7 linked regions of the Homo sapiens genome follow. The protein of the gene in region 1 purifies or fractionates together with the protein of each later gene. This does not show direct contact. Each region holds a gene or a part of one and is shown in the gene's direction. Other genes may lie near its edges. The genes, in order: GOLGA6L2, WDR62, FOXP4, CEP295, MTFR1L, AKAP11 and SIX4.

Region 1 (2,853 bases):
TAGTAAGAGCTCTGTCTTCCTCTTTCTATAGGAAAAGAAGGCAAGCCACCAACATCAGGAAGCCCTAAGGCGGGAGATAGAGGTGAGTGGAGGGTGTGAAGTTCCCTCCTGTCCTCTGGAGAAGGTTTTTTTGCTTCTCTTTCAGCACTTGCTTGTCTTTTCTCCCAAAGGCCCAGGATCATACAATACGAATTCTCACGTGTCAGAAAACTGAACTGGAGACAGCGCTCTATTACAGCCAGGATGCTGCCAGGAAATTTGAAGATGGGAACCTGGGCACCCCATCATCCTTCAACCTGGCACTTTCACAGGCCTTTAGGGGGAGTCCTTTGGGCTGTGTCTCAACCTCTCTCATTCCAGGAGAGTCCAAGGATCTCGCCGGCCGCTTGCATCATTCCTGGCACTTTGCAGGAGAGTTACAGCGGGCTCTCTCTGCTGTGTCCACATGGCACAAGAAGGCAGACAGGGTAAGTCCAATCACCTCCCCAGTCTCCTGGGATCCCAGCTTCGCAGATGGAGGAATGAGCCTAAAGGTCCCTCCTGCAGGATGCAGTGTCCTGCCCAGAAGATAGTATGGGTCATTTCTTGCTGCTTTTGTGTGTGGTTATTAGAGGCAGGTTGGGGCTGAGTCAGCTGCTGTGGGTGAGTTGGGGGGCACTGTGGGGAGCGAGCACTGGACACAGAGCTCCAAGGCCAAGAGCCTGCCCTGCCCATACTTGGCTGTGGCCTTGACCAAGTCCTAGGCAGGGGTTAAGGTATTTGTACCATGAAGGTACAGAAGAGTATCTTTAGTATGTTACCATTTGTGTAGAGAGAGGGAACACACATAAGTGTGCATGTGCGTGTGTGTGTGTGTGTGTGTGTGTACGTATTATGGTAACATACATAAAAACATATTTGTAAGGATTCATAAAAAACTCAGGAGACAGGAACAGTGTGTGTGGGGTAGATATTTCCCTTCTCTACCTTCTGAGTTTTGGACTATGCCAATGTATCGTTCTTTCAAAAAGTCAACAAAGGATTAATTTCCTCCTTCTTATCTGTGCCCCTACCCCCAGGGAAAGAATGGGCTTAGAGAATCAGATACACCTGGGTGTTGAAATCCCAGCTCTGTCAAAGTGATCTTAGGCAACCATTTAACTTTTAATACCCCATGTTTTGCATCTATACAATAGAGGTAATAATGGTAACCGTCTCCTATGGAGGTTGTGAGGATTAAATGGGATTGTTAGCATAGTGCCTGGTGAAGCACTCAAGAAAGGTTCCAACAGTGGCAGTAATAACAGTAATAGCAATAGCAATATTATCTGATCTCTCTGGGCCCCTGTTAGCCAGCTATCAATTCAGTCTCTTTCCCTGTCCCTTCTACCCTTACTGAGTTCTCTGAAAAACAAGTGAGAGCCAGGTGTGGTAGCGCATGCCTGTAATCCCAGCTACTTAGGAGGCTGAGGCAGAATTGCTTGAACCCGGGAGGCAGAGGTTGTCATGGGGCGAGATTGCGCCATTGCACTCCAGCCTGGGCAACAAGAGCAAAACTCCATCTCTAAAAGAAGAAAAGGAGAAAAAAAAAAAGAAAAAAAAATGAGACCATGGGCTTGGAATTGCCTTGAGAACATGTCGGGTGTGATGGAGAGTGAGGGAGTGTTACTGTGGAGTATCAGTGTAGCTGTTGTTCCTGGTCGGCCAGCTGCTCTTCTGCCTGCTCTGTCCTGACTTAACCTTTCTCTATTTGCAGTACATCGAGGAGTTAACAAAGGAGAGGGACGCCCTGAGTCTGGAACTGTACAGGAACACGTAGGATGGGGGAAGGTGGGATGGGAGGTCTGGGGGCCCTTAGCGTGGGTGGTGTGCTGGGAGGTGGGGGGTACAGGTGAGCATGGTAGGGGGTCATACAGGTTTACATGTGTGCACAGGGAAGCTCTAGTGCCGGCTGTGCCACTGACTCATGGGGTAGCCTCAGGCAACTCATGTCTTCTCTCTGGCCTGCCACCTGGGACTTTTAATTCCTGGGGTCCCTTCCAGTGCCACGGTTCTGTGCTTGTGGGGCGAGAGTAGAGGGTTGATCACCAAAGCAGTCCTTTCTGTTCTTCGTTCATTCCTTTCTCTACTGCCTCGGGCCATAGCATAACCAATGAGGAGCTGAAGAAGAAAAATGCCGAACTACAAGAAAAACTTCGACTTGCAGAATCTGAAAAGTCTGAGATCCAGCTCAACGTGAAGGAGCTAAAAAGGAAACTGGAGAGGGCCAAGTTCCTGCTGCCACAGGTGAGCGGCTGCAGCCCCAGGGGTTGTGGGAGACCCATCCAGCTAGGACCATGGTCTAGGGATCATGCAAGGTATGGGGAGGGTCCAGCCAAGAGCTGGAAAATTTGGGTCCTTGTTCTGGTCCCACCATAGAATCCTCTAGAGTGTGCTAAAAATCTACAAATTTGGGGCCCTGCCTGGGAAATCAGAACCTCAGTGTTAAGGCTTAAAAATTTTTTTTAAAGAATCATAGATGAAAACTGTTATTTTATAGATTACATTTATATAGCTAGTTCATAAGTCTATTTCCTTTTGAGGTTCAAACCAACACTTTGCAGGAGGAGATGTGGAGGCAGGAGGAGGAGCTACGGGAGCAGGAAAAGAAGATACGGAAGCAGGAGGAGAAGATGTGGAGACAGGAGGAGAGACTGCGGGAGCAGGAGGGGAAGATGCGGGAGCAGGAGGAGAAGATGCGGAGACAGGAGAAGAGGCTGCGAGAGCAGGAGAAGGAGCTGCGGGAGCAGGAGAAGGAGCTGCGGGAGCAGAAGAAGCTGCGGGAGCAGGAGGAGCAGATGCAGGAGCAGGAGGAGAAGATGTGGGAGCAGGAGG
Region 2 (2,856 bases), on another chromosome or scaffold:
TTCCTGTTGTGTGACCTGGAGTAAGAGGCTTACCTCTTTGGGCTTCAGTCTTCTAAAAAGTAGTCATAATGGGGTCAGGGGCAGTGGCTAACACCTGTAATCCCAGCATTTGGGGAGGCCAAGGCAGGAGGATTACTTAACGATCACTTGAGGAGTTCAAGGCCAGCCTAGGCAACGTAGCAAGATCCCACCTCTACAAAAATATTTTTTAAATTTTTTTGTTTGTTTTGTTTTTAAATGGTAATAACAATCTCTTCTGCCCCAGAGGGCTTTTACAGGAATCCATGCTTAAGTATAGGGCCTGGGCTCTTAGAGGTGCCCGTGCAACTTTAGCTCTTTCTCTACTATTTTCCAAACAAAATTCATTTTTATCCTATCCTATAATTTGTCATCTTCATTGTGGTATAATATACATCCAGTAACATGCACAGATTTTAGGTATACAGCTTGATGAACTATCTGTGTAATTCACGTGTGTCCACTACCCTGGGCAAAATCTGGAGTGTTTTCTACCTCATAGAAACCCCCTTCTGCCCTTCCCAGTCAGGTCCCCGCACCAGGATAACCAGTGTTCTGACCTCTCACCAAGGACTGGGTTTCCTATTCTTGAACTTGATATAAATAGACACGTAGAGGGTTGGGCCTCCTATTTTTGGTGCCACACCTCTTCCTCATCTGTAAAGGGACTGATAATGCAGGGGCAGACCAGGACAAGCTGGTTGCGAGTGGAGGGCATGGCACAGGCCCTGGTTCACAGCCTCCAGCAGTGGGGCTGCTGGCATGGTTCCTGGCGCACTGTTGGTGGCCCCAGCCATGCCTGCCTCAGAATGGCTGTGCTGTCTTCCCCATAGTCAGAGAGTCCCCAGGAAGCTGGCCGCGGGCACCCCTCCTTCCTGCCCCAGCAGAAGGAATCATCTGAGGCCAGTGAGCTCATCCTCTACTCTCTGGAGGCAGAAGTGACAGTCACAGGGACAGACAGGTGGGTGTCCTTTCCACCAAGGGAGCCTTAGTTGGAGGAACCCCCAGCTGATAGCTGCATCCTGGAAGAAGTGCTCTCTGCCTTCCCAGTGGGCTTGTGGGAGTGGGGACAGTTGAGGCCTGGATGGGGCAGGAGCCCAGCCTTAGTTCCCTGGTTCCAGGTGGGGTACAGGAGGGCCTGACCTGGGGGAAGGAGGGGGCATTTGGAGGAGGCGGGGAGGCTGTCGCAGTGCTCCTGCAGGAGCAGCGGGTACAGGTGCCTAGGGGCTCCGGGTGGGGCTAGCTGTTGAGTCTCCAGCTGAAGTCCTTGTTCCCTCTCTGCCCCCACTGGCACTGCAGCCAGTATTGCAGGAAGGAGGTGGAGGCCGGGCCTGGAGACCAGCAGGGCGACTCCTACCTCAGGGTGTCCTCCGACAGCCCAAAGGACCAGAGCCCGCCTGAGGGTGAGTGCAGGGCAGGCAGGGACCCTGTGACAGTCTGTGCGTTCAGCCAAGCCCCTTTCTGGGCACCGATGGTGACTTTGACCCAGTACTGAAGCTCAGAGTCTGTCGAGGAAGACACATGTGGTCCCTGCTGCTGCCTGAGGATTCTGGGCCCAGCTGCCTACAGCTGAGAGCCCAGCTCTGCCACCTCCTTGATGTGGAACTTCCCTTATTCATAAAATGGGGGGCAGCTGCTCTTACCATCCCTCCTCCAGATGGGGAAACTGAGCCCAGGGAAGGGTAGCCCTGGCCCTGGCTCACCAGAATGGTCAGGCTGTGGGCTCCTGACCCCGACTCTGTCCTTCAGACTCGGGGGAGTCAGAGGCCGACCTGGAGTGCAGCTTCGCAGCCATCCACTCCCCAGCTCCGCCTCCTGACCCTGCCCCTCGGTTTGCCACGTCGCTGCCCCATTTCCCAGGTAAGCAGGGGCCAGACACGCAGGGGACTCGCTGCTCGGGCCTGGCTTAGGGCCAGTCACAATGTCTAAGCACAGGCCCTGCACTTGGAGCCCACTGAGCCTGGAAGACGGGGATCCCTGCTTCTCAGCCTGCGGGCAACAGGGCAGGGATGGGTGGGGCCCGCTTTCTCCATTTCAGGTGGCGTCTGCTGTGACTCATGGTGTTGGCTCCTCTTGTCCCTCCCCTCCTTCCCTGTCAGGATGCGCAGGTCCCACAGAAGATGAGCTGTCCCTGCCCGAGGGACCCAGCGTCCCCAGCAGCTCCCTACCCCAGACTCCGGAGCAGGAGAAGTTCCTCCGCCACCACTTTGAGACACTGACTGAGTCCCCCTGCAGAGGTAGGGCCCTGCCTCACCCACACCTGCCGAGGCCGTCTGTGCAGCCTGGGCACAGCATTGGCGTCCCTGGAGTTGGCTCCCCAGCAGGGCCAGGAGGGTGAGTGGAGAGCAACTGCTTCGTTTTTTTTGAGACGGAGTCTCGCTCTGTTGCCAGGCTGGAGTGCGGTGGCCCAATCTTGGCTCACTGCAACCTCCGACTCCCTGGTTCAAGCAATTCTCCTGCCTCAGCCTCCTGAGTAGCTGGGATTATAGGCATCCACAACCACGCCCTGCTAATTTTTTGTATTTTTAGTAGAGATGAGGTTTCACCATGTTGGCCAGACTGGTCTCAAACTCCTGCCTCAGATGATCTGCCCGCCTTGGCCTCCCAAAGTGCTGGGATTACAGGCGTGAGCCACCGTGCCCGGCCCACTGCTTCACTCTTGACCTGAGCCTCACGATGCCTCCTCACCCACTGCCCCTGCTCGTACCCTGTGTCTGTACATAAGGGTTTCTGGGGAGTGCCCCGCTGGGCTGTGGGCTGGCCTAGGGCCAGGGCTGCTCGGCGGGAAGGGTTATGAGGGTCCCCTCGGGATCTTCCCCTAGAGCTCTTCCCCGCAGC
Region 3 (3,500 bases), on another chromosome or scaffold:
CCACAACCTCAGCCTGCACAAGTGCTTCGTCCGCGTGGAGAACGTCAAGGGTGCCGTGTGGACTGTGGACGAGCGGGAGTATCAGAAGCGGAGACCGCCAAAGATGACAGGGTATGTGGGTCCAGAGCTGGATGGGCTGTACCTGCCCAGGGGGCAGGAGCCAACTCACCCCCACCCCCTACCTCTCCAGGGTACACATGTGCACCAGATCCTTCCTGGCTGGGGGAAGGGGTGTGGGGAGAAAGGAGCAGAGGAGACTAGTGCTTGGGGACAGGGGGCTGGAATCCGGAAGTGATGGATAATCAGAAGGCAGACATTTATGTCCTCTTCTGTCCTCACTCTGACTGAGGGAAGGGGCCAAGAAGGAGGCCTGGTAGCAAAGAGAGACAGGGGCCCCAAGTAGCCCTGGCCAGAGCTGGCACACAGGCAGATGCCAGCCAACGGGCCATGGGTGAGGGGCTGCCACCCCCAGGGCACCCGCTCTCTCAGCTCATCAGGATGACTAGACCTCTGAGGTCCCGCGACCCCACCAATTCATCTTACGGCAGAGGAGAGCCAGTGAGGGCCAGGGGCTGGCAGGAGGCCCCAGAGCAGATTTGTGGCAGAGCTGGTTCCAGGACCAGGTCTCTGCCCTCCTGGTCTTTTGTGCTCAGCTTCACTTCACCACCTGGCATTTTATTTATTTACTTATTTATTTATTATTTTTTTAATTTTATTATTTTATTCATTTATTTTTTTTGAGAAGGAGTTTTGTTCTTGTTGCCCAGGCTAGAGTGCAATGGCACGATCTCAGCTCACTGGAACCTCCACTTCCCGGGTTCAAGCAATTCTCCTGCCCCAGCCTTTCGGGTAGCTAGAATTACAGGTGCCCACGACCACGCCCGGCTAATTTTTTTTGTATTTAGTAGAAATGTGGTTTCACCACGTTGGTCAGGCTGGTCTCGAATTCCCAACTTCAGGTGATCCACCTGCCTTGGCCTCCCAAAGTGCTAGGATTATAGGCGTGCACCAGCGCACCTGGCCTATTATTTTTTTGAGACAGAGTCTTGCTCTGTTGCCCAGGCTGGAGTGCAGTGGCACGATTTTGGCTCACTGCAACCTCCACCTTGTGGGTTCAAGCGATTCTCCTGCCTTAGCCTCCCGAGAAGCTGAAATTACAGGCGCCCACCACCACACCCAGCTAATTATTTTACTTTTGGTAGAGACGGGGTTTCACCCTGTTGACCAGGCTGATCTCGAACTCCTGACCTCAGGTGATCTGCCCGCATCGGCCTCCCAAAATGCTGGGATTACAGGCGTGAGCTACCGCACCTAGCCTCCACCTGGCAGTTTAAACAGAAACTGAGGAGCCTGGGACAGGGTCAGGACCTCCCTTTGGCTTCCACGTAGCAGCAGTGGCCTTCTCCCGACCTCAAACAGCCCCACCCCAGCCACCTGCTTGCTGTGCCCCTTGGGCCAGAGCCCCTGGGTAAGGAGAGGAGAGCAAGTTAGATGGATGTCTCTGAGGTGTGGGGTGTCTGCTCCCCTCAAAGATGCCTGCTTACCAGGCAGGAGCCTTTGCACCCCAGGCAGTGTGCAGCCTGGAGAATGGAGGGAAGCCATCCCCTGGTGAATGCCTAGGGGCCAGTCTCCAGGCCTGGCTGCGCTTGCACCTCTGCTTCTCACCAGTTTGGTGACCTTTGGCTGTTTCCTTAAGCTCTGTGAGAGCTCTGTGATGGTGTCATCACTGGAAGAGGGACAGCCCCCAGCCACTGCTTTTCCTGTCCCAACTCCCGAACACCTTCCCGTGCAGAGAAGCCTTCTGTATGGAGGCTTCCATACAGAAGCCTCCATGTGGGACAGGCTGAGCATATGTCTGACATGTCCCAAAATCTAGGATGGCAAGACAGTGTGGGCAGACCAGGTGTGTAACTACTGAGACTATAGATTAGACCTTGCCAAACATTGGAAAATCTAGACCGGAGAGAAAACGGGTGGGGGGGCAGCATGCTGTGAAGGCAGACACTGGGGGGATGCCAGTTCCCACTTCCCAGCTCCGAGACCTGGACAGGTCCCTGAACCAAGCCCATCGCACCCACCTGTGAAGGGGCTGCTCCTGCAGGGCCAGTTGAGCGTGAAGACCGAATCAGACCAAGTACACACACAGCTCCAAGACAGCGGCTGATCCGCCCTGGCCTCCCGGAATAGGGAATGGGACCCATTCCCAGCACAGGCCGTTACTTAGTGAGAGTAAAGAGATGCGAATGAAGAGCTAAGTGAATGAGTGAGCCAAAGATGGCCTTCTCTGTCCTCCAGGAGCCCCACCCTGGTGAAGAACATGATCTCTGGCCTCAGCTATGGAGCACTTAATGCCAGCTACCAGGTGACCTGCCCAGAGCCCACCCACTCACCTCTACCTCCCGCCCCCTTGCTTTCTCATACAAGAGACCCCCATCCTCCCCTGCAGAGGACTCACCAGAGGAGGGAAGGAGGGTGAAGACCCAAACTCTCCGAGACCCCACCTCTCTGCCCCACCCCAACTCGGGGCCAGCCTCCACCTCTGCTTTCAAGGCTGGGTTCAGACAAGGCAGGCAGCTGGGAGGATGGCATACCTATAGCATCCCCTTTCCTGGTTTGTCAGTCTGGGGGTTCTCTGTTCCCTGGGAGAGGGGATAAGCCAGGCCCAGGTTCCAGGAAAGCTAGGAGGTAGGAGGTCGGGGGGTCAGAGTTCCAGCCATGGGGGAGGGGTGCTACATTCAAAGGCTGAGTTGGGGCTTGGGGGTTGCCCAGACAGATCCGCCCGTGGGGCCAGTAGGCAGACACACAGGCAGCTCTCTAGTGGGCGGGGAAGGCACAGCACTTGACTGAGTGTGCCCCATCCTGTGGAGCCACTGACGAGGCCCAACCCTGTGCCCCTGCAGGCCGCCCTGGCCGAGAGCAGCTTCCCCCTCCTCAACAGCCCTGGCATGCTGAACCCTGGCTCCGCCAGCAGCCTGCTGCCCCTCAGCCACGATGACGTGGGTGCCCCCGTGGAGCCGCTGCCCAGCAACGGCAGCAGCAGCCCTCCTCGCCTCTCCCCGCCCCAGTACAGGTGAGCACACAGCACGGACCCCCACCCACCCCAGCACCCCTCAACCACCAGGGAGGAGGCGTCATCCCCCACCCTGGGTGGGGTTCCCCATCCCACCCCCACCACGCCTCTCCCCAGGACAAGTGGCTTCTCTCTTCCTTCCCTCAGCCCTCTCAGCCCTCCCTTGTCCCACCTGCCTGTTCTTATCCCCTCTCCCCACCTCCCCACCTTCCCACCTTCTCCTCCCCATTTTCCCCCTTTCTTATTTTTCCTCCTCCTCTCTTCTCTTTTTTTTTTTTTTTTTTAAGACGGAGTCTCGCTCTGTCACCCAGGCTGGAGTGTAATGGCAAGATCTTGGCTCACTGCAACCTCTGCCTCCTGGGTTCAAGTGATTCTCCTGCCTCAGCCTCCCAAGTAGCTGGAATTATAGGTGCCTGCCACCATGCCCAGC
Region 4 (3,177 bases), on another chromosome or scaffold:
TGGGAAAAAACTTTTTTCTTCTAAAATTAGAGATGAAGTTCCCACTATGCTACCCAGGCTGAACTCAAACTCCTAGGATCAAGGGATCCTCCTGCCTCAACTTCCGAAGTAGTTTGGACACACCACAATGCCTGGCAGGAAAAACCTGAAACAAAATACAAGCAAAACTGCTTGTTAATATTGCTATCCAGCTTGTGATCACTAGAAATATCCAGCATAATGCAGAAACTTAAAAATTTGAAAACTGTCTTCTGAGAGTATTTTACAAAAGATCCTTTTTCTCCCAATTCAGATATCCTTTCTCCAACTTCCCTGAAAAATGGTGGTTCTGCCTGTGCTTCAGCACTTTCAGTGTTGAGCCTCATTCCAGTGCAATGAATTCATCCATTATTGGAATAAGTATTGGAAACCTGCTCCTCATATTAAGCAACTTATAATCTGCTTGCTTTCAACACCAGTCAACTGGTGACTGGTTTTCATCTAGCAGTATGTGCAGTTTATCCTTCCACAAATAAACATAACAGATTGAAAATAAGAATTACAACTAAACCACGTTTTATGTGGCTGCTTTTGTTCTTGTTGTGTTTAGATACTTTTGAAACATTATCTGTTAGCAGTCAGTGGCCCACATTTGGTAGCAGCCCAGTCGACCCCTGCTCCCTTTAAAGGATACAATTCGGCACAGCCAACCTGCATTTATATTTTTTGCCCAACACTACAAGCATTTAGGTTTGTAATCATTGTGGTAGATACCTTTCAGTCCATTGTCACACTATTTCATCCCCTCCCCAAAGTAGGCTCCAGTATTTCTACAACTGAATGCTGGAGTTATGGAAGCCTAAGGAAATCTGATCTGTTGGTCTTTGCCAATCATTGCTTTTCTTCCTCCATTTTCACATTTATATACACTTGCAAAAAATGTGCATTATATACAAAACGATTAGTTTAAGTCTTTTAAGGCTATTTTGACATGGTTTTCCTTTTAATTGTGGTTCACAGGAAACAGAAACTGGCCATGGTATAATGGAAGAACCAGAACTTACTTTAATAAGCACCACTGATACCAGTATTGCTGAAATGGATTTTGCAAATTTAACCCTAGAAGAGAAGAGCGAGAATGAAGCAAAATGCTTCTTTCAGGTAAATTTAAGCTTTCCTTCTATTTTATTCTATTACAAGCAAACCAGTTGATTTGTCTCTTACAACTTATCAGAAGGTACTCATTGGAGGGAATTATGCTATGCATTTAACTAAGCCGACACCCCCACCAGCTCTCAATTTGTCTTAAACCTTCACTATTCTGTCAACCATTGTGCATTTTCTTTTAATCCCCACTCCAATTTATGCCTGTCTCCAAGACTGGCAGAACTAATCTTATACACCTAGTGTTATAGTGCCAAGTTGGAAGTTTTACCTAAACTTATTCCCAGATATTGAAAAATGACTTCAGAACAACTGGTAATTTTACTAGGGGAGTAGGGAGGCAATAAGAATAAAGCTATCTAAACAGAGGCCTAGAGGTGTGAGGGCAGTGGAGCCTAAGCCCAGTTCAAGACCAGCCTGGGCAACAAGGCAAAACCCAATCCCTACAAAAAATACAAAAATCAGGCATGGTGGCGGGTCTCTGTAGACCCAGCTAAGATTGAGGCTGCAGTGAGGTGTGATCATGCCGCTGCACTCTAATCTGACAGCAGAGCAAGACCCGCTTAAAGCGTTTAAAAAGAGTAAAACATGCAACTTTCTTGCCATTAGGTGAGTGAGTTTCTGCCTCTTGTATCAGCAACAGAAGCCTCAGATTATCCAGCTGTATCAGAACTTTCCATAGAAAAACCAAGGACAGCATCTACAGGTAAGCCTTGGACGGCCTCCACACTTCTAATGGAAAGTAGATACTTTGCCTATTTCTGTCATAAATTTCTTTTCCCCCAGCAGAAACCCCTCGCAGGCTTACACCTGTACCAGGGAGCTTACAAGAAGCATTTATAAAGAGGAAAAAATCATTTATGGAGAGATCCCACCAGAGGCAGAAAGAAATAAGGAATAAAATTCATGTCTCTGAAAATTCTCAAATCAAAACAGTTAAAGAGAAACCATCTATAAGTATGTTGAATTTTTAAAATCTTCAACCAACTCCCTGAAATGTTTAAAGCCTTGTGTTTACAACTTGATTTCACTTTTCTTTCCTCAGGTTCATCTGTGAGTCGTCTAAAGGGCGTGAATAAAGTCAGAGCATCTTTTCCTGAAGACAGAAAGACTACACAGGCTCTAAGGCACCAAAGGGGTCTAAGGTAGGGTTAATTTTTTTTTTTTTTTTAGTGATTCACTTTTTGCAGTGTTTGTCTCTAATTCTATATAAATTCTTTACAGGTTATACAATCAACTAGCTGAAGTGAAACAACAAAAGGAAGAAAAAACAAAACAAGAAGCTTATGCCCAAAACAGAGCAAGGGCAAAAGAATTCCATAAGGTGAGTATAACTGAGGGAGAAGGACTTAATTTTTCAAGCATGAAGTACACAACTGAAACTCAAATTTTTATTCCTTCCACAGAAAACACTAGAGAAACTTCGAGCCAAAAATACATGCTGACTTTCTAGAAATAGTGTAAAGGTTTTTTAATTGTGTATATGTAGCATTAGACAAAATTATTTAAAGTCAATAAATTGTTATTCGAGGAATTCCATGTTGTGATTTCTTCCACTGTCCATCAAGGTCACTTTAGATCCTCTAAAGAGCTGGAGTCAAAAGATTTATCTTCAAGTTTGCCCTGAAGAAGAGAAATTTTGATTAACCTTTAAAACTCTCACATGGCAACAATCCTGGATTATTACGTTTTATATCTCCTCAGGAAAACATAGCACCAAACATTAGGAGTGCTATGGCTTCCTATAGAGAACTTCCATCTTTGGTCACAGCGTTAAGAGCTCTGGGTTTCACAGCCTCATAAGCCCTCTTTGAAATGACCCATACAAATGTCTTTTCTAATGCATACATACCTTTTTAATGAAACTGATCCAGTTGTCCTGTCAGCCCTACATAACAATAGTATAAAAGTAAATTTTACATTTCCAGAGATGAGTGTACAGTGAGTGAACATGAATGAGTCCCTAGAACGAGCCTGAGTTAACTCTACTACAAACTGCTTGGTTATTAGCAACCCACAAGGGTTACAATATAA
Region 5 (3,500 bases), on another chromosome or scaffold:
TGGTGACCATTAAATCCCCACTGTGGGGGGTTGTTTCACAAGAGGGAAATCTGGTGCTCCTCCAGATGGCCTGATATGAAGGAGTCACGCCTCCCGCCTCCCGGAGCTGCCCAGTGGCTGCCTTGTCCTTCAAGTGCAGGAGCTGGTTCAAATGTCAGGAATGGAAGCCACTGTGGTAAGGGGCATTCCCAGGGCAGGGGTATGGTGGGGAAGGTTGGGTGCTGGGCCTGCTGAAGTACTGTAAAAGGTTCTGAGACTCTCCAGTTGAGCACTCCTTTCTCCAGAGGCCTGGAATTGGAGCAAGGCCACCGTTTCACTCCCTCCCCCTAAGAAGAACCAACTATGATCCTGGGGCACTTCAGGAGTCAGTGTATGTCTGCCTTTCTGTACAGAGGACGGGAAGGAAAGCCTGGATAATCTCTACACTCAGCTACTTCCTCTCCCCTTCCCTGACCCTCCCAACATTGACTGCCTTAGCAGCAGCAGGTATTCCCTTGGGTGGCTGGCCAGGGTGTAGGCTGGCAACTGGGGAACCTGCCCTCACTATAATTGAGAGTTGACTTGCCCCTAGAGAGTGCCCTGTCCCTAGGTTTGTGGAATTCAGTCTCCACAAACCTAGAGAGGAGAGGACAAGGACAGTAGTTGGATTCATTCTCTGGGGTTGTAGCTGTCTCCGTCTCTTTGCTCCAGACCATCCCAATCTGGCAAAACAAGCCACATGGGGCTGCTCGAAGTGTAGTAAGAAGAATTGGGACCAACCTACCCTTGAAGCCGTGTGCCCGGGCGTCCTTTGAGGTGAGTATGTTGGAAGGGCAGGAGAGTAGAGGCTCAGACAGTGCTGCTTCTGTGCCCCAAACCCCTTGGTACTGCCCAAGTAGGTTGTTTCCTGGTCACTTTTCATTCTGTTATGAAATATTTGTTAAATGCTTATAAGATATCCTGGTCACTGTGTCCTCCTGAGTGCATACAAACCTGTGACCACAAGGAACCTGACAGGTCCCCCACATGGGACACTGACTATTGTGATTTTTGAGTTGAACTCTGCTTTTCTTCACCAGCCCTAAGAATTGACCATGTAGCCAGTATTTTTATTTTATTATTTTTTGAGATGAGGTCTCCCTATGTTGCCCAGGCTAGGTCTTAAACTCCTGGGCTCAAGCAGTCCTCCTGCCTCAGCCTCCTATGTAGCTGGGATTACAGGCACAAGCCACCATGCCCAGCTCCACTATTTTTAGTGTTTCTCTGAGGCCATAATTCCTCAGCCTTCTCTTTTTGGCCAATCTGGGCATCCTTTACTGGGGTGCTTTGGTCTTACCTCTGTGTCTAGGGATCCTTTAGCACCCACTCAGCAGCAGAGATTCCTACCTGGCCCAGGTCTCTTGAGACCCCTTCTGTGGTAGAAAGCTAAGTAGCATTTATTAGTCCCAGCTGCCTCCCTCTAGGAACTAAATGGTTAAGCACCAGCCCCAAACTATATGGTTCAGATGTGTGCATTTGGAGAGCTGGGATACAAAAGAAATACTTGTGCTTTCTACCCACACAGAGGAGATAGAAATATGTGCATGAAAGGATGTGGGCCCAGGTAGAAACAGAAATGAAGGAGCCAAATCTGTATAAAAGATGCTAAGAAGCAGAGTCTGTAGGAACTGGATCTGGAATTAGAAGAGGTGTCAGGGTTGGTATTAGGGTCAGGAATGGAGTTGGAAGTGTCGCAGGGGTAGGGGGCAGGAAAAGCTGTCCCAGTATTCAGATTGCCAGCTATCCAGAATTGTCTAAAGATCCTGGGCAGGAACTGGTCCTAACTTGCCTCAGAAGCATCAGAAAAAAAAAAGGGAGACAGCTAGGGAGTGTGGCTCACTGCATAGAGGCCGTCCCCACACTTGGCTATACCCTCTTCAGTTCTTTGGCCAGATGCTGGGCAGAGACAATCAAGGGCACAGGCTCTCACAGAGCAGGAATGTATGTGAGCAGTATTGGTAATACTAGATAACATTTACTGAGCACATACTATGTGTCAGGCACTGTGCTGTACTTTATATTTGTTTACTCATTTAATTGCCAAGAGCAAAGGAGCATTCAGGGCTAATCAGGAAAACAAATGGAGGCTTCCCCCAAATGCCCTATTTTAGCACTAGTTCCTGGGTCACTGGAAGTTCTTCTCTGTGTGACCTTGGAGTATCACTTAACTCCTGTGAGTCCCAGGTTTCCTATCTAAATGCAGGAGCGATCAATCCTGGATCCATCTACCATACCAAATAATTTGTAGCAGAAACAGTTGAATCTTACTTGTGTGTAAATATGCATTTATTATTATTATTAAATTACCTTAAATATTATTTAAGGGACTCTTACCAATTTATTTTGAAAATTTAAGCATATGAAAATATTAAAATTATGAAAAGTAAAAGGAAAATAAATTACCTATAATTACATAGTAATAATACAATAACTATTAATGTCTTAGTGTAGTCCTCTTTTTCTAGATGGATGTTTTTTACTTTGTTGTAATCACAGTCAACATGACTGAATCCTAATTTTTCACTTTACTCAACATCTCTAGGTTGAGGAGCTATTTTAAGAAATCCTATTATGGTTCCTTTTGTATAATCATTTATTTTTATTTAAATCTAAATATATTCAAATTTTCAGGTTTGTTTAAAACAGCATTGCTGTAACAATGTAGATCTCAATTAGCTATACAGGATTATAAAAAGCTAGTCAGGAAAAATTTCCTATTGCTGTAACAGGTTGTGGATGACCTTGTACTTGTATTTTCACCAGAGGGCACAGTGGTTTTAGACAGTTGCCATCTCTACTAAAAGGTGACTCAGGCCTTTTCCACTGAAGACACAGAACTGTTTGTAATCCCATAGACTCTCATGTGTCTTGCCTGTTTTTGTTTTTGAATGTGGCTCTGTTGTCCACGCTAGAGTACAGTGGTGCAATCTCAGCTCACTGCAACCTCTGCCTCCCAGGTTCAAGCCATCTTCCCACCTCAGTCTCCTGAATAGCTGGGACTACAGGCGTATACCACCATACCCAGATAATTTTTGTATTTTTTGGTAGAGGCAGGGTTTTGCCATGTTGCCCAGGCTGATCTCAAACTCTTGGTCTCAAGCATTCTGCCTGCCTCGGCCTCCCAAATGCTGGGATTACAGGTGTGAGCCACCATGCCTGACTGTCATCTGGCCTCTGTTCAATGTTTTCGACCAGGAACCTTCTTCTGCCCCCTCTAGGAAGCCTTCCTGACACCCAGTGCCGGATTAGGTACCCCTCCTGTGTATTCTGCAGTTTCTGATTGGCTCATCATGGCATCTGTAAATGTTGATGACTTTTGCTTCTCCATAGACCCTGCCCAACATCTCTGACCTGTGTTTGAGAGATGTGCCCCCAGTCCCTACCCTGGCTGACATCGCCTGGATTGCTGCGGATGAAGAGGAGACATATGCCCGGGTCAGGTAGTTGAGGCAGTAGCTGGTCTGCTAAGGAATGGAGAACTT
Region 6 (3,500 bases), on another chromosome or scaffold:
CTAAGGAAGAGTTGACAGCCTCTCTAGTTGGCCTACCAAAATCCTTAACAGATTCTTGCTTGTTTGAAAAATCTGGATATGAAGAAGATAATGAGTGTCACGTTACACCAGAATTGCCTAAGTCTCTTCAGCCTTCCTCACAAAATCACAGGTTTTACCACAGCACTGGCAGTTTAAATGGATATGGTTGTGGAGACAATGTTGTTCAAGCTGTAGAACAGTATGCCAAAAAAGTAGTGGATGACACTCTAGAGCTAACTCTAGGATCTACAGTGTTCCGAGTGTCTGAGACCACAAAATCAGCAGACAGGGTCACTTATGCAGAAAAGTTGTCACCTCTTACAGGTCAAGCTTGCAGATACTGTGACCTTAAAGAACTCCACAATTGCACTGGAAATTCATCTCAGCACTTTTTCAGACAGGGTTCTCTCGCCAGTAGTAAGCCAGCTTCTAATCCAAAATTTAGCAGCCGCTATCAGAAATCTAGGATTTTTCATCTCAGTGTCCCTCAGATTCATGTTAATCTTGATAAGAAGGCAGTGCTTGCTGAGAAGATAGTTGCTGAAGCCATTGAAAAAGCTGAGCGAGAGCTGAGCAGTACCAGCCTGGCAGCCGACAGTGGGATCGGACAGGAGGGTGCCAGCTTTGCTGAAAGCCTTGCCACAGAAACCATGACAGCAGCTGTCACAAATGTTGGGCATGCTGTTAGCAGGTAAGTTTCACGTTTCTTTTGGTTGTTAATGATAAATTAAAAAGATAAATGTGATCCTATATGTCTTAGGTCCTGTTCATAAAGGAATGATTATTTTTAACCCTACATAAACAAAAGTTTTCCCTGTTGCATTTATGTATTGTTTCATATCCTACACATGACTTTAATATATTTTGGTCTCCTGATCCCTTTTGAGGGAAGGTGTTATCCATTTACAGAGCTGGAAAATGAGGGTTGGAGAAAATAATCACCTTATCCAAGTTCATAGAGCTATGAAATAGGTAAAGTTGAATTAAATAAATAGCTAGAGAATTTTATATAGTAGTCCCCCCTTATTCTCAATTTTGCTTTCCTCAATCTGAAAATGTTAAATGGAAAATTCCAGAAATAAGCGATTCGTAAGTTTTAAGTTGCATGTTCTGAGTAGCATGATGAAGTCTCACACCATCTCACTCAGGATGTGAATTACCCCTTTATCCAGTTTATCCATACTACATGTGCTGTTCACCTGTTAGTCACTTAGAAGGTATCTCAGTTATCAGGTCCACAAACCTGGTATGTACAGGGCTTGATGCTATCTGCAGTTTCAGACATCCACTGGGTGTCTTAGATCATATCCCCCATGGATAAGGGGGGACTATTCTATAGTAAATGTAGAATATTACTATATTAATTTACTATTCTGAGATTAAATTTTTGTACACCTTTCTTCATTCACAAGGGTAAGTTTTCTTATAAAGACCATGGTTAAACTACTCTGAAGAAGAAAGTGAAAATTCTTTACATACTTACACCATTTCTCTTGATTGGTTCACAATCTAAGAGGACAGTTCTTTCTGGTAGTCCTACAGTGTCCTGTTTTTCAGTAGCTATCTCTTGTGCTCAGTGATTCTTTTTTTTTTTTTGAGATGGAGTCTCGCACTGTTGCCCAGGCTGGAGTGCAGTGGCACAATCTCAGCTCACTGCAACCTTTGCCTCCCGGGTTCAAGCGATTCCTGTGCCTCAGCCTCCCTAGTAGCTGGGATTACAGGCACCCACCACCACGCCCAGCTAATTTTTGTATTTTTAGTAGAGACAGGGTTTCACCAAGTTGGCCAGGCTGGTCTTGAACTCCTGACCTTAGGTGATCTGCCCACCTCAGCTTCCCAAAGTGCTGGGATCACAGGCGTGAGCCACCGCAACCAGCCATGCTCAGTGATTCTTTAATAACAACTTAGTTACAGTTTTTCAGTTTAAACCTTCTTTGTCCCTGAGAAGATATCAGGACCAACTTGTGTTATTAGTTGATAGGATGATATTTGTAAGTCCTGCTTGAAAGAGAAAATGCTTTAAGTTGAGGTGGAATTTAATTGAGTCACATGATATTCCAGATTTTTGAGTAGCTTCTGTTAAAGCCATGACATGGTCTGCCTCTTTTCTTATCCATCTTAAAATAGGGAGATATAGCTTGGCCAGGATTCTTGAATCCAATTGCTCCATAGCGTCTACTTGAGATGAGAGATGATGTAGGTTTCTGGTGAACTAGGAGAGGTCTCTATTTGCCCTAATCAGGCAGCCTTCTTTCTCCTAGACCAGGGGTTGGCAAACTACAGTCTGTGGGCCAATGTGGCCTACTGGTTGTTTTTGTATGGACTGCAAGCTAAGAACAGATTTCATGTTTTTTTTTAATGGTTGAAAAAAATCAAATGATATTTTGTGATGTGGAAATTATATGAAATTCAAATTTCAGTATTTATAAATAAAGTTTTATTGGGACACCACCATGCTCATTCAATTACACATTTCTGTGGCTGCCTTTGTGCTATAATGGCAGAGTTGAGTAGTTGGGACAGAGGCTGTATGACCAGCAGTGCCTATGTACTTCCTGTTTGGCCTGTATTAGTTCATTTTCACACTGCTATAAAGATACCACCTGAGACTGAGTAATTTATAAACAAAGGAGGTTTAATTGACTCACAGTTCTGCATGGCTGGGAAAGCCTCAGGAGACTTACAGTCATGGCACAAGGCAAAGGGGAAGCAAGTGTTTTCTTCACAAGGCAGCAGGAGAGAGAGAGAAGGGGGAGCTGCCAGACACTTTTAAAACCATCAGCTCTCATGAGAACTCCCTCACTGTCATGAGAACAGCATGGAGGAAGCCGCCCTCATGATCCAATCACCTCCCACCAGGTCCCTCCCTGGGGGTTACAATTTGAGATGAGATTTGGGTAGGGACATAGAGCCAAACCATATCATGGCCTCTTACAGAAAACAATTGCGAACCTCTGTCCTAGATCCACATTTTCGTTTTCACTACATACCAGTTCCTAGTATGATAATAAACATAATAAATTGTTAATAAATATTCTCATGAATAGGTAATAAATTAGGCCTTTTTACAATTGAAATAATTTTCCTCATACAGGTTGCTTCAGGCTATTTTACTTTTTACTCCTCCTCAGTTCAGTCCTGTCTGCCCTACGGACCCATCCATCCCCCTTTCCTCCCACCCTCATGGGAAGAAAAGAGACTGTCCTCTAAAGTTTTTAAGACATCACTCTCAGGGGCTAGCAAATGCCTTTGTTATTGATTTTCTCAGTAATTTCCACTTTTCCTTCTTAGAGTTGGGTGAGTAGATAGCCCCTAAAGTTCTTCCTGTAAGCCAGTGCTGTCCAATTTCAGCTTTTTATTAAGGCTGGAGTAATTATTTTCCTGCTTCTCTTCTTAATAATTGTGCTAGGGTTCTGTAAATACTGACTAAGGAAAGCTGACTCTAGTGTGTAGAGTTTACGTTTAACATTTTTTATTTC
Region 7 (3,500 bases), on another chromosome or scaffold:
TCTGCTCTCGTTTGCTCTCCCTCCCAGCCTCAGACCAAATGGGAAACCCCATCACTACCCACCCCCCAACCCCGATTTGGTATTTCTCCCAAGTCAGAGAGCTGAGGAACAGGGTCCTGCCTGGAACAGAGGGACCAAGGACGTTGGGGAAGAGGTCTAATAGTTAGAAGGCCTCTGAGTGACACCCTTTCCCTCCCACCTCACCAGGGCACTGGATGGTGTTTGTTAAATAGGCCCCTTTGGCTTCCTTTGGATTCAAAGGCGACTGCACATAACTGTTCTTGGGTTGAAAGTGCCTTTTCCTACAACAAGGACAGCCACTTTGTTGAATGAGAGAGTTGTCAGTCTGGTGGAGTAGAAGTTTGGGAGCAGGTGAGAAAACGATCTCTTGTTAACTAACTGACCAAAAAAGAAAAGCTGAGCACTTCCTACCTCCTGCTCCTTTGGCAGCTTCATTTACCTCCAAGATAACACTAATCTGAATTGGTTTGAGGGGAGGGGAAGGAGTTCCTAAACAGGAAAGACCGACCACCTCATTTAAGGTGTTTTTTTCTATGGTGTCAGTAGCAGCATATGTAACAGTAAGGAATAGCACTTCTACACTGTAAAATCAAATATGTTCTTCTCCTGTAATGCTGAATTTACATCTTGCAGATGTCTGGACTTTCCCTGAATTTATTGTTATTTTAAATGATTGGGATCTGAGAGTTTATCTTCCCAGATTCTCTGGCTGGTCGGAATCTGCTGAAAGGCCTCTTAGTTTAAATAGGACTAGCAGATATCCTGCTGTGCTTTCCTTAAATACTGCCTTTAATGGATTTAGAAGCTGGTTTTCCAAACAAGTGGCACTGTGTAGAATGTCATCCCCCTGACCTTCTGAACATTTTGATTTCCCCCTCCATACAGTGAGTCAGATGGCAACCCCAGCACTGAAGATGAATCCAGCAAGGGACATGAGGATTTATCTCCTCACCCACTCTCCAGTTCATCTGATGGCATCACCAACCTCAGCCTTTCCAGTCATATGGAGCCAGTATATATGCAACAAATTGGAAATGCTAAGATATCATTAAGCTCTTCTGGAGTTCTGTTGAATGGAAGCTTGGTACCTGCAAGTACTTCACCTGTCTTCCTTAATGGAAATTCTTTTATTCAGGGACCCAGTGGAGTTATCCTTAATGGATTAAATGTGGGAAATACACAGGCAGTGGCATTGAACCCACCAAAAATGTCATCAAACATTGTGAGCAATGGTATATCCATGACTGACATACTGGGGTCTACTTCCCAGGACGTGAAGGAATTCAAAGTCCTCCAGAGTTCTGCTAACTCAGCAACCACCACGTCCTACAGCCCCAGTGTCCCTGTCTCATTCCCAGGCCTGATACCCAGCACTGAGGTGAAAAGAGAAGGCATTCAAACAGTGGCTTCCCAAGATGGAGGGTCTGTAGTGACTTTTACTACACCAGTGCAAATTAACCAGTATGGCATTGTCCAGATCCCCAATTCCGGAGCAAACAGCCAGTTCCTTAATGGGAGCATTGGATTCTCTCCACTGCAGCTGCCCCCTGTGTCAGTGGCAGCTTCACAAGGTAACAATCTCATTTGGTACCTTAATGCACCAGCAAATGTGTTCATCAGCTGCTGTAAGTGACGCATTTGGTGATAGCTATAGATTGATGTTTCTGTTCAGGTACCTTATTAGCTGCCGAAGCTGTAGAGTAGCCTTGATGTGATTCTCCTCTTTCACAATACCCATGTCATATCCAGGTTGCTTTATTCCCTTGCATCATGAGGATGGGCTTTTATTTTACTAACAACTGAATGGAAAAATACAGTTCATAGCAAGTCCTGCCAGTTCTACAATTACAGAAATATGATAAGTCAATCAGTGCTTACAAAATAACTCACTGCTTGGCATTTTAATATTAAAAATTAATAAAATTGCTAAGAACACAAAATTAGTCTAGCAGTTGGTAAGAATGCATACACTTTACCTAAGCATTATTTATTTGACCAAAAAATGTTTTAGAAGAACAAGCTAAAAAGACCGGATCAATTATGTTTGAATCCTGTTTCCTCCTATAATGAAGACTAACAGACCTAAAAGAAAATCAGAGGAATATGCCATTGGATTTCTATCGCTCAGCATATATACTAACCCCCTAAATGTGTGGGTTTATTTGTGAAGATAATAGTAAGCCTTATTTTATATGTTTGTGGCTTTACTAACAGCAATCTTCCAGAGAAAGCACTTAAATGAAATTCAGGAAAACTGAGGCTGATATATTAGTTCTTCACTGACTTTAAGCAAGCCTGGATCCTCTATGTCATTTTCTCTTTAAAGAAATAGAAATGGTTAGAATTTGGCAGTGGAGTTTGCATAATCCCTTGAATTCAGGAAGGGTAGATCTTAATGCACGTTTGCCTTCTTGTAGACAAATCTGAAAATCCAGATTTTTACAAAACCAAAGTAGTAATTGTTGGCTTTAAAGGTCTGCTTCCTATAAGATGGTTTTACCACCCCCCCAAAAAAATCAATTTATGCACAACTCTCTTGTTACCACAACTATGGTCTATGTCAGCTTATTGAAGGAATTAATGGAAAAATTGTTCTAAATTTCATTCTGTACATTTGCATTTCTTTAGGCAAAATGGTACTAAAACAAGACATTCCTGCAGCATACTATTCAGTTCATCATTGTTCCAAGTTATGGAAAGAGTTAAGTTACTATCTAACATAGGGCAAAAATATGAAAACCACAGGGAAAGCCAAAGTGCTTAGTTTGATAATAATTTAATGTGGATCTAACCCCTTTTCTCTCATTTGGAAAATTTCCAAACAGGTCACATTTTAAAGGCAACAAATTTGAGCAGAAAGAATGAGTTATGTATGTTGGGGGAGGAGAAAAGTAGAAATACTTTTAATTGTGTAATCTAGAGGAGCACTGCCATAGAAAATTATTATGAACTAATAGCTGAGTTTTTAAATGGGACATTTAATAGGAATAAGAATAGCATTTTCAGTTAAAATAAGTAAGATCAAATCTTAGACTGTCTGGGTGAGTTGAACAGACAGTCTAAGTTTAACCAGATAGTTAAGTTTAATCCAGTAAGCAACATTTCTATGGTAGTTAGGTATTGCAGTTCTCAATAAAACATTTTGGGGATTCAGTTTTTTCTCACAAACAGATACTGAGCCATTCTTTAAAATGTCTTGACAAGATAGACTTATCTTTCTATAGTTGGGATTTATGTGGAAAAGTAGAATATCTACATCTTTTACTCACTTTACAGTCTGAGCAACTAAGATTATTATTATTATTATTATTATTATTTTTAGGCGGAGACTCATTTTGTCACCCAGGCTGGAGTACAGTGGCGCGATCTCGGCTCACTGCAGCCTCTGCCTCCCGTGTTCAAGTGATTATCCTGCCTCAGCCTCCCTAGTAGCTGGGACTACAGGCGTGCATCACCATGACCGGCTAATCTTCGTGTGT

The links.
Region 2: the proteins of GOLGA6L2 (region 1) and WDR62 purify together in Homo sapiens (affinity purification with mass spectrometry; one large-scale study listed by BioGRID and IntAct). This does not show direct contact.
Region 3: the proteins of GOLGA6L2 (region 1) and FOXP4 purify together in Homo sapiens (affinity purification with mass spectrometry; one large-scale study listed by BioGRID and IntAct). This does not show direct contact.
Region 4: the proteins of GOLGA6L2 (region 1) and CEP295 purify together in Homo sapiens (affinity purification with mass spectrometry; one large-scale study listed by BioGRID and IntAct). This does not show direct contact.
Region 5: the proteins of GOLGA6L2 (region 1) and MTFR1L purify together in Homo sapiens (affinity purification with mass spectrometry; one large-scale study listed by BioGRID and IntAct). This does not show direct contact.
Region 6: the proteins of GOLGA6L2 (region 1) and AKAP11 purify together in Homo sapiens (affinity purification with mass spectrometry; one large-scale study listed by BioGRID and IntAct). This does not show direct contact.
Region 7: the proteins of GOLGA6L2 (region 1) and SIX4 purify together in Homo sapiens (affinity purification with mass spectrometry; one large-scale study listed by BioGRID and IntAct). This does not show direct contact.

Annotation. Positions count from the first base shown.
Region 1 is NC_000015.10:23,441,391-23,444,243, reverse strand, and holds part of GOLGA6L2 (golgin subfamily A member 6-like protein 2), read left to right. Parts: intron 1-31; coding exon 32-82; intron 83-170; coding exon 171-467; intron 468-1,735; coding exon 1,736-1,794; intron 1,795-2,123; coding exon 2,124-2,265; intron 2,266-2,561; coding exon 2,562-2,853.
Region 2 is NC_000019.10:36,099,897-36,102,752, forward strand, and holds part of WDR62 (WD repeat-containing protein 62), read left to right. Parts: intron 1-851; coding exon 852-979; intron 980-1,317; coding exon 1,318-1,421; intron 1,422-1,767; coding exon 1,768-1,878; intron 1,879-2,117; coding exon 2,118-2,255; intron 2,256-2,840; coding exon 2,841-2,856. UniProt on the Homo sapiens protein: Required for cerebral cortical development. Plays a role in neuronal proliferation and migration.
Region 3 is NC_000006.12:41,594,881-41,598,380, forward strand, and holds part of FOXP4 (forkhead box protein P4), read left to right. Parts: coding exon 1-111; intron 112-2,295; coding exon 2,296-2,362; intron 2,363-2,900; coding exon 2,901-3,070; intron 3,071-3,500. UniProt on the Homo sapiens protein: Transcriptional repressor that represses lung-specific expression.
Region 4 is NC_000011.10:93,727,682-93,730,858, forward strand, and holds the end of CEP295 (centrosomal protein of 295 kDa), read left to right. Parts: intron 1-999; coding exon 1,000-1,140; intron 1,141-1,752; coding exon 1,753-1,849; intron 1,850-1,929; coding exon of another isoform or gene 1,930-1,932; coding exon 1,933-2,100; intron 2,101-2,188; coding exon 2,189-2,288; intron 2,289-2,367; coding exon 2,368-2,467; coding exon of another isoform or gene 2,468-2,549; coding exon 2,550-2,588; coding exon of another isoform or gene 2,589-2,596; 3' UTR 2,597-2,677; downstream 2,678-3,177. UniProt on the Homo sapiens protein: Centriole-enriched microtubule-binding protein involved in centriole biogenesis.
Region 5 is NC_000001.11:25,822,954-25,826,453, forward strand, and holds part of MTFR1L (mitochondrial fission regulator 1-like), read left to right. Parts: exon of another isoform or gene 1-65; 5' UTR 66-151; coding exon 152-175; exon of another isoform or gene 176-653; intron 654-690; coding exon 691-795; intron 796-3,348; coding exon 3,349-3,458; intron 3,459-3,500. UniProt on the Homo sapiens protein: Mitochondrial protein required for adaptation of miochondrial dynamics to metabolic changes. Regulates mitochondrial morphology at steady state and mediates AMPK-dependent stress-induced mitochondrial fragmentation via the control of OPA1 levels.
Region 6 is NC_000013.11:42,303,152-42,306,651, forward strand, and holds part of AKAP11 (A-kinase anchor protein 11), read left to right. Parts: coding exon 1-712; intron 713-3,500. UniProt on the Homo sapiens protein: Binds to type II regulatory subunits of protein kinase A and anchors/targets them.
Region 7 is NC_000014.9:60,717,852-60,721,351, reverse strand, and holds part of SIX4 (homeobox protein SIX4), read left to right. Parts: intron 1-207; coding exon of another isoform or gene 208-229; exon of another isoform or gene 230-244; intron 245-906; coding exon 907-1,592; intron 1,593-3,500. UniProt on the Homo sapiens protein: Transcriptional regulator which can act as both a transcriptional repressor and activator by binding a DNA sequence on these target genes and is involved in processes like cell differentiation, cell migration and cell survival.